2 separate regions of the Homo sapiens genome follow, and region 1 is linked to region 2. The links come from fine-mapping of genetic effects on gene expression. A gene starts in region 2. The other region holds a variant in brackets. All regions are shown on one strand. Distances are between the middles of the regions.

The links. PIP is the estimated chance that this variant, and not a neighbour inherited with it, causes the effect. A credible set is the group of variants that fine-mapping cannot tell apart.
Region 1: its variant is the best candidate, but not a certain one, in a credible set for the expression of MMS22L in whole blood (INTERVAL, PIP 0.52).

What each region holds. Positions count from the first base shown.
Region 1 is chr6:97,143,452-97,148,837 of GRCh38, forward strand. It overlaps MMS22L (MMS22 like, DNA repair protein), which reads right to left. Exons shown (of 25, transcript NM_001350599.2): 25 at 1-3,436. The coding sequence ends at 3,355. Among named protein-coding and RNA genes, the nearest start is that of MMS22L, 140 kb to the right of the region's middle. The variant T/TA (reference allele first, on the strand shown) is at 2,683.
Region 2 is chr6:97,280,600-97,285,985 of GRCh38, forward strand. MMS22L (MMS22 like, DNA repair protein) reads right to left here and starts at 2,617. Exons shown (of 25, transcript NM_001350599.2): 1 at 2,497-2,617; 2 at 1,715-1,954; 3 at 638-763. The coding sequence starts at 1,878. RefSeq lists enhancers at 2,194-2,453, 2,834-2,893.

The DNA of each region.
Region 1 (5,386 bases), 140 kb before region 2:
GGTAAGTTACTGGAAGTCCTCGAGCAGAAAAGTAACAAGAGGAAAACAGTATTTTAGGAATACACATTTCAGAACATAAGCTGTAGGAGAAGAAACCAGAGGTAAGGAAATAAGTAGTGCCCAACAGAAAAAACAAACAACCAGTGGATGCAAGGCACTGCAAAAAGATAAAAAGAAGCCTAAGATCCTGTAATGGTAATCAACTGAAAGTGGGAGAAACATGAAGAACCTAAAATGCCTCTGACATTTCAAGGCTAAATAACTTAGGACAATAGTGTATTCCCTGGGTAGAAAATGAAAGCAGGAGGTAGTCTGAGATTTCAGGAGACTCCAACTACAGAGGTTTAGAGATGAATTAGCACTAGGTGGCTCATCACGCCTGTAATCCCAGCACTTTGGGAGGCCGAGGCGGGCGGATCATGAGGTCAGGAGATCGAGCCCAACATGGTGAAACCCCGTCTCTACTAAAAATACAAAAAAAATTAGCCGGGCGTGGTGGCGGGCACCTGTAGTCCCAGCTACTTGGGAGGCTGAGGCAGGAGAATGGCGTGAACCCGGGAGGCAGAGCTTGCAGTGAGCCGAGATCGTGCCACTGCACTCCAGCCTGGGCGACAGAGCAAGACTCTGCCTCAAAACAACAACAACAACAACAACAAAAAAAAAAAAAAAAAAAAAAAGAGAGAGAAAAGCTGGAGTTATCAGTTCACCACTAACAGAATGTTGAGACAAAGCAGATGAAGGGTCGTATCTTACGACTGGGGACAGGAAAGAAGACCATGAAGGTGCTCTCAAGATACAGTGGTCATTTTTGGTCTGGGGACTGGTTCCAGGATCCCCTGTGCATACCATAATCTGCACTTACTCAAGTCCTGCAGTTAACCCTGAGGAACCTGCCTCTACAAAAAGTTGGTCCTCCATATACTCAGATTTTGCATCCCACAAATACTGTATTTTAGATCCACATATAAGTGGACCTGCACAGTTCAAACTTGTGTTGCTCAAGGGTCAACTGTATATGTAGGAAGGAGCAGTACCATTGTGGAAATGATGGGAAGATAAAAGAAAATACAATTGTCACAGAGAGGACAAAGAACATGAGAAAGGAGAACAAACTCAGATTTGACCAAAAGACAATGGCTTGTATTACACTGGTAGAAGCAGCAGCCTCAGAAATTACAGGGTATTTAGGGAAAGTGGCTATTAAAGAAGCAGGTATAAGGGACTCCAAGTCTGGGAATGAAAGAGGGCAAGATTGTAGTAATAAGTGAAGGATCAGTGAAGATTTTAAAAAAAAGGAACTGAGCCATAAATTTTCTTCTTTTTTCAATTTAAAAAAAAGCTTTAAAAAAAGTTACTTATACATAAATACAAAACATATAATACACACACATATTGTTACACACTTTGTTGTTACCATTCTTAAGTACAAATTTTAGTTATTCTTAGTATCTATAGATATATGTCCTAAAGCATGATTCAGTAGCAGCTTTTCCTATCCTTTAAACGTTTTCATACTCTAAGGAGCAAGATTCTCAAAGGTATCTTTATCAATCTCCTTTGGAAAAAAAAAACCCACACACACACACACACACACACACACACACACACACACACAAAAACACATATACACATAAATAACCTCTTTAAAGGCATCACCTTAAATAGATAAAACTCCTTAGTGACTGCTGGAACTTTCCAAGCCATACATTATTTGTTTAGTAAGTCACTATCATGATGAAAAGAAATTCAGTGTTATGAAGTCTATTAAACAGCCTTAAGCTTTCATTTATTCCCTTTGATGAAGCTGATTTGAGAGAAGGACCATTTATATGTTATGAAAATAACAGACACTCCTTTGGATTTCACAGATTATAATTAAGAGAACGCTATTAACTACAGAATACTGATTGCAAAGTATTTCATTTTTAAAGATACTCCTTGAGCCAGAGAAGGGTTGAAATGTTTTCTTGAAGGAAGAGTAGAACCATGATAAAGACTATAATCCCAAGAAGGAAACAAAGTACTTCAAAGTTAGAAAACATGATGTAAGAAAACATTGGAAAGTGGGATCATTCATCTGGGACATATCATTAGAGAAAGATAAAATTGAGAGGTGTTCTTTGCCTTAATTGTGCACGAGTAATAAACTAATCGTGTCTGTACATTTCCCAACAGAATTTGGGCCACCAAATATTTTCACGTACATTATCCCATTGATTCTCACAACAACACTGTCAAATAGTAAAGGGATTCTTCTTTTCTTCTCCATGAAGAAACTAGACTGAGAAAGGTTACGTAACTAGCTCAAGATCATAAAGCAAAGCTGAGTTTGAGACCCAGGTGGGTTCCCAAAACTAGGACTGGAGCTCTTTCAACCAAATAATGCTCAATAGGAAAAGGAGTCAAGGACAAGCTCCAACTGGTAAAACAATCTGGATGAGTTAAGAGTTCAAAAGTTGAGAAACAATGTTGTTAAAGGAAACTAAACAGGTTTCTTGGATAAAATGCTAAGTTATAAGAAGCTCTGGCTAAAGAGCAAGAAGATGGATCAGCTGACTTCTCAGACCACTACTATTGTTACTTTTCTAGAATATTTTTATTTACTCTCCTCTTAAAGTCTCCTTTATTTCCTCCTCCTGATATGATTTTTTTTTTAATGACAACTCCAAAAGAAAGGATGAA[T/TA]AAAAAAAAAATTTGGCAACTCTTGGAACCTAAATATAAACCCTGTTGGCATGTTTACACTTCTTTTTGGATATCAGCTGTATAATCCTTTAGCCAGATTCAGTCTCATTCCTAACACAGTTAAGTGTGCTTTGTAAGGGTTTTCTTTGTTAACTTGCCTCACACATATAAAAAAGAAAAACAAATACACAGTCACATTTCCCAACACCTTTCCCCCACCAAAAACACAGTATAGGGTAGCCAGGTACTTTGAAAAAGTATCATTTTAAAACATAACTATTATTGTAAAAATAAAAAATAAACATGACAAATCAGTCACAAGGCAGGGAGGCAGGAAGTCATACTACAACAAAAAGTCTATGGATGAAGTATCTGCTTAATACTCACACACAGAAAACACTCTCAGAAAATGTTTCTTTAATTTAGTTTAACTAAAATTTCATCAAGGTAGAATGCAGTTTTGTAAAAAGTTCCAAGGATCCTATTACACAGTTGCTAATTAACCTTCAGTTCCTTATTTATACATTTTTTACTTACAGATATAAAAGGAAAAAAAATCCTAGAAATTATTTTAAACAGAACATTATACAATTAATTAAAAGTAGGAATTAGAGTGGAACAATGTGGCTTTAGATACTGATAATTAATAGACAGGATGAATCACAAAATATATTAAGTATTATCATTTTCCAGTCTCTGCATCTCATCTTGTCCCATCTGTCCAAGGTGAGACAAAAGTTTGCTATAGGCTTCCCTGTTTAAGAAAAAAGAAAAGAAAGCAAATATATTAACATTTTCATTATTTTTCATTTCAGTATTTACAAATTAAGTCTGCCCATCATCCATCCATCCATCTATTCAGCCATCCATCCAGCAGGCTTAGCACAACACTTCTTAAAAAGTAATGCTTTATATCTATTGTGAGTAAACCTAGATGTTAAGATGTATTAAAGTATGATTTTTATATATAAAATGTGTGCTAAAAATGACATGTAAAAGTTCATTAACCTTCCGAAATATTATAATGCTCACGGGTAATAAAATGCATTCATGGAATATTATTTAAGGACAATGATGGTATGATTACAATGGGAAGACTTGTATCACAAGCGTAAGTATTAAAACAAAAATTCTGTAACCATAAAATAGACCTGTGTAGCAATTTCAGTATATATCCCATTTTCTTCTTTTAACTTCTTATAAGTAACAAAGTTTGAAAATAAAATATTGTTTCTCCTCCTACATTCTCTAGTACTTCCCTGTATTTGGAAGGTGTTTTAGATGATTTATTGTGCCTAGTAGTTATCTCACTAGTCTAAATACCTGTTCTGTTCAGAATCTTTAGAACCAAACTTCTTATGGGCCTGCATAACCACACAAGGTAGTAGGCCAGAATATTTGTTTTAACAACATACTGCATTAGGGTGGTTCACACACAGCCTCTCTAGTTTTTTCACTCAAATTTGAAGACTGCTCAGAGAAGCCAGATGTGAGACATGTCTGTGCATGAGCTTGTTTTGTGACATGACAATAAACACCATTTCTTCAAGCTACAATTTGAAGTGATTCAATCTTCTCTCCTTAGAAAACCACAGGAGGCTAGCCAAGTCACCATGCAGAAGAAAGGAGATGTTCCATTCTGGCATACAAAAGCTTTACAAGGATGATCTCTCCAGTCCGCACCCCCTGCCTTTTATATGAAATGGCATTGAAAAAATGGATTCCATTAGTTAGCTAAAGCTATAATCAACATAGTCATGTCTTCAAGAAAGATCTCATATATTGTTTAATAAAAAATTTTTGTCTAAAAATTGGAATATGCATATTCATTAGAGTGTGTATTTGTACAGATAAACAGACACACATGCATATGATTATAGTCATGCACTACATTAAAAACATTTTGGTCAATGATGGGCTGCATTTTGGTCAATGATGGATCCCATTAAGATTATAATGGTACTGAAAAATTCCTAATGCCTGGTGATGTTGTAGCCATTGTAATGTCTTAGTGTAATGCCTTACTCGTGTTGTTTGTGGTGATGCAGGTATAAACAAACCTATTGTACTGTCAGTCATATAAAAGTCTAGCACACACAACTATACATAGTATATAATACTTGATAATAAGAAAGAATGTTACTGGTTTATGTATTTACTATACTTTACTTTTTATTGTTATTTTAGAGTGTACTCCTCTTTATACTTATAAAAATAAAAGTTAACTGTAAAACAGACTCAGGCAGGTCCTTCAGGAGGTATTCCAGAAGAAGGCTTCCTTATTGCAGGAGACGACAGCTCCATGTGCGTTACTGACCCTGAAGACCTTCCAGTGAAGTAAGATGTAGAGGTGGAAGACAGTGATGTTGATCATCCTGACCCTGTGTAGGCTCAGGCTAATGCGTGTGTGTCTTCATTTTTTACAAAATAGTTTAAAAATAAAAAATAATTTAAAAATAGAAAAAAGCTTATTCAAGAATATAAAGAAAGAAAATATTTTTGTACAGCTATACAATGTGTGTGTTAAGCTTTTTTACAAGAGTAAAAAAGTTAAAAAAAGAAAAAGTTTAAAAGGTAAAAAAGAGTAAGCTAAGGTTAATGTATTATTGAAAAACTAAAAATTTTAGAAATAACTAATGTACTCTAAATGTATTATGTTTATAATGTCTACTACAATAGTGTACAGTAATGGCCTAGGCCTTCA
Region 2 (5,386 bases):
CACCGCGCCTGGCCGTCCTCATCGTTTTTAAAAAGCACATATTTTTAAGAAATTCATACTGAAGTATTTATGGGTGAAACGACATGATGCCTAGGATTTCCTTACAAATACTTAGGCCAAAAGAAGAGGAGACAAGACAGATGAAGGAAATGTAATAAAAAGTTGTTGTTTACTGCAACTGAAGGAGGGTATATGGATGTTCATTATATTATTATTTTGTGTATGCTTAAAATTTTTCATTAAAAAAATTTTAAATGTTGTCCAAATAATTAATATTTCTATTACACAGTCTAAACAATTTATTTGTTAAGACCATACTCTAAAGATCACTGAAAGACTATGGCTATTGCACAACAAAAATATTTTAATTTTCTTCTAAAAATTATAGTTCAAAGCCTTAAATATTTGTCAATACATGTGTCAAATGCAAAGAATAAAGATTCTGAAAACGCAACTCATTAAAACCATTACTCATCAGGCATTGCTGCTTGATTATTGTTACTGGTAAGATAATCAAGTGAGCAACCAGCACAATTCCTCTGGTCTTTTGTAATATCAGTATTAGAAGCCACCCAACAACGTAATTTACAAAAGTGAACAACACCTACACTCACAGAAAGTTATAACGAAGAAATACCTGAATAAATGAAAGAGTTCTCTAGATGAATTCACTAATGCTGTTTCAGTAACCCACTGAATGCCAAATATTTCCAAGGTATCTTCTTCAAAATTAGTTGGTAAAGGGTCAAGATTCAAAATCAATCTGAAATGAAAATTGTTTCAATCTCATAAAAAGTATACTAAGTACCATAATACGACGGCTCTTTTCTTTACATTATTTGAATCCATATTATACATGACATGTATAAAAAGTCAGAAAATGCCTTGGTACTTTACACATTCAAGATTACAATAGCTAGACTGTATTAAAACGTCAATCTTCTATATTGATAAAATGTACGACTAAAGTGTAATGTAACTTAAGAGGAAAAATCAACAAGAATTCTAAAAAACATATTTCTGCCTGTCTTCACCAGTAGTCTTCAGTTGTAGAATTTCATCCTTTGAGGGGACATTTAATTTTAAAACTGCTAACAGTTATTCTGAGCCATGTCTGGAGAATAGTATCCAACTAATGAAGTTGAGTATTCTATTTAAGATTTCTAACAAGGTACAACTATAAGGTCAACAAAAATAGTTTCCTCACTGAAACTGCCTCAGCAGGTATTACCAAAATATTTCAAGAACAGTTTTACTGTAATATATATGTACCTGCCCAAGGCAAAATAAGTCTATACACTTCTATATGTGCAGGTAGGATTAGAAGGAACAGGGGCAATAAAAAATGTTTGTCTCTCTTAAATATTACTGGAAAGCTCTAGAATATTATCACACTCTTTAGAAGGAAATACTACTGCAAAAGGCTCAGATAGTTAGGAATTCATTTTAAGTAGAAGAAAAATTAGTGCCCAGCTCCCTACAGTAAGGGAACATCAGTTACCAAGGAAGTTTTCCCTAATACCCCAAATACTTTAGATATGCCCTTACCAAGAAGCCAGCAGAACTGATAATCATTTGTACCCTTATGATATACTAAGCTGATTTATAAAACACGACTTGGTGAACACCAAAGTTTAATGGGCTGAAATAACTAACATTCCTAAAAAACTGGTGAATAATCAGATGAGGGAAAATGTCTCTGAGTTTTACCTACCGCTTAAGGGCTCCGCTGCAGAGGTAGGATTCTCCAGAAAAATGTTTTCCTCCTCCTCTGTTGTCAACAGCACAAGAAAAGTAAGGAGGTTTGCACCATTCCGTCCCCAGCTCCAGCTCTAAGCTGTCAGTCAGGAACGTCGATGCAGCAGAACAGTTCTCCATTGTTTACTTCATGTTCTGAAACACTTGGGGTTCGTCGTATCATTAAGGGCTCCAAAGAGAAGGTGTGAAGAGATTCCTGTTGGGGGGGGGGGGGTGGGGCCGAGAGAGTGGGGATTACTTCAGAAAGTTCTCAAGACGTCCGCCAGCAGGAAGGAAAAACAAACGAACAAACCCAGAGGCCAAATTCCCAATTCCCCCTCGCCCTCCGTCCATCAAGGCTGTCAGAACTTAAGACAAAATGCACAACCAACTGGCTGTGGCAGGGACCTCGAAATCCGGCCACTAAGTCGGGCTCTGCAGCCCAGGACAAGGTGAAAAGCAAAGAAATGTCTGCAGGACATAGCGTCCCGGGCTTGCCTAGAACTGCGCCCTCCGCAACGTTTCTAAACCACTCTCCGCCCGTTTCCCAGCAGCAGGGTGGAGAACGCTCCCTCCCCGGCTCGGGGTGGAAATTAGGAAAGCAACCCCTAGGGCCAACCCCGACCCTCCAAGGAGGAGGCGAGACCCACCAGGCCCACGCCTGGCAGCACTCGGGCGGAGAAGGCGGGGTGCCGGTATCCCGCGTACCCGGCTGCAGCAAGGACCCGGGGCGTCGGTTACCCGCGGTGCCTGTCGTACCCGCTCACATTTCCAGCTCCCGAAACCTGCCTCCTGTGACCCAGACCACCAACAGGAATCTTTGGGGTCTAAACCGCAAACAGGCGAAATTCCCGCCACCGCGCGCCCGCGCTCCGGAAAGGCGGGGCCACGGCGCAGCCCTCCCCCGGCTACCAATCGCCTCGCGATATCTGCGCGGAAACAGTCGGAGCCCCACGAATTCTCGCGAGAGTCCGTCAGTCCGGGACGAGGTACTGAGAAACTTTTTTTTTTGTACCTTTAATTGGTGCGTTCGGCTGAAAGGCGGGGCCTGGTAAAAAAAAAAAAACAGAACTGCTGCTGAGGCGGAGGAGAGGACTTAAGGACTATGGGTTTATCCTCTGGCCGGACCAAAGAGAAGATATTTACTCCAGTGAGTGCGAAGTGAGTGCCTCGTTCACACCCACAGTCGCGCCGTCCCCTCTTCCCGCTCTGGGGCCAGCAACTCTTGTTAGAATGCAGATGCCTTTTGTCCATGGACTGTGAGGCAGGCAAGTGCAACAATTAATTTTCTCTGTAACAGATGGAACAAGTAGACAGAAAATTAGTATGGATATGGAAAACTTGGAAAGCACTAACCAACTTGACCTAATTGACGTTTATAGGTGACCAACCCAACAATAGCAGAATACACACTCCTGTCAAGTGCACATGAAACATTCACTAAGCGATACCATATTCCGAGCCATAAAACAAATGTCATCAACTTTAAAAAGATTTAAATCGTACAAAGTGTATAGTCTGATCATAATGGCATTAAACTAGAAATAAAGTAGATACTTGAAATACTCTAAATATTTGGAAATTAAGAATCATACTTCTAACTAACCTGTGAATCAGGAAAAATCACAGGAAAATTAGAAAATACGTTGAATTAAATTAAAATGAAAACACTAAAATTTGTAACAGTACCTGCTTACATTAAAAAGAAGAACTCAATTCAATAAACTTTTGTCTTAAGTAACTAGAAAAAACCCCCAGCATATTGAAACCAAAGCAAGCAAAATGAATGAAATGATAAATAGTAGAAATAAATGGGATGAAATAAATGGAAGGAAATACATGCAAAAGTTGTTTTTCTAAAAGAGCAATATAATTGATAACCCCCCTACCCAAACTGATAAAGAAAATAAACAAATTATCAGTATCAGGAATTAAAAAGGTTTCATCACTATGAAATTTAGTCATTAAAAGGACAAGGATATTAAAAGAACATTATGAACATTTTTATGCCAATAAGCATAGGTGAAATGGACAAATTCCTTAAAAGACGCAAACTGTCAAAAATCAACAAAAGAAGAAAATTTGAGTATCTCTGTATTTATCGTAGTACTCAGAATCTTTGGTTAAGCCTCCCTCCTCTCTCTCTGCACACACACACACACACACACACACACACACACACACACACCACTTCTTACAAGAAAACTTCAGGCCAGGGCAGGCACAGTGGCTTTGGGAGGCTGAAGTAGGTGGATCCCTTGAGACCAGGAGTTCCAGACCAGCCTGGGCAACATGGTGAAACCCTGTCCCTTGTCTCCACAAAAAAAATACAAATATTAGCCAGGCGTGGTGGTGCTCATCTGTAGTCCCAACTACTTAGGGAGGCTGAGGTGAGAGGATCACTTGAGCTGGAGAGTTCGAGGCTGCAGTGAACTGTGAGTGTGCCATTGTACTCCAGCCTGGACAACAGAGCAACACCATTTCTCAAAAGCAACAAAACAAACAAACACTCTCCAGGCCAAATGGCCTTACTATTAAATTCTCCCAAACATTTAAGGAAGGAGTAATACCAATTCTATACTAACTCTTAGAGAAATTAGGAGATTGGATGCTTGTTTTATGAGGCTAGCACCACACTGGTATCGAAACCTGACAAAAGACAATTACAATACAATATCACATGCAAACATAAAAGCAGAAATGTTAGCAAGCAAAATCCAGCAGTACATAAAAAGGATGACATATGATGGCAAGGTGCAGTGGCTCACGCCTGTAATCCCAGCACTTTGGGAGACCAAGGCGGGTGGATCACTTGAGGTCAGGAGTTCAAGACCAGCCTGGCCAACATGGTGAAACCTCGTCTCTACTAAAAATACAAAAATTAGCCGGGTATGGCGCCATGTGCCTGTAGTCCCAGCTACACAGGAGGCTGAGGCAGGAGAATCGCTTGAACCCGGCATGGGGAGGTTGCAGTGAGCCGAGATCGCGCCACTGTACTCCAGAACAAGACTCCGCCTCAGAACAAACAAACAAAAAGGATGACATATGACAAGAAAATTAGATTCATGTTAGGAATGCAAGGTTATTCAAATTTCTACAAGTAATCAGTTCATTATATCAAGTCTATAAAAAGAAAAACTGTCATCTCAATAGACACTGAAAGATCACTTGATAAATTCAACATCTATTCATGATAAAAACTCTCTGCCAACTAAGAATGGAAGAAAACTCCCTACCTTATATGTGATATCTATGACAAACCTGCTATTAATATCATACTTAGTTATAAAAATGTATGTTCTTTTCCTAAGATTGAGAAAAAGGCAATGATGTCCACTTTTTCCACTTCTCTCAACATTTTACTGGAGGTAACTAGTCAATGCAATAAGGAAGATGAAGAAATAAATGTCATATAGATTGAATAAGAAGAAGTAAAACTGTCTTGATTTTCAGATGACATAATTATTCATATAGAAAATCCTAAAAAAATCTCTACAAATATATATAAAAACTATGAGTTCAGCAAGGTGGCGGGGTTCAGTGACACACAAAAATTAATTGTATTTTATAGACATGAAAAGACAATTTGAAAATTAGAGTTTAGAAAACAACACCATTTAATGACATAAACAAGGTTTAAATTTAACAA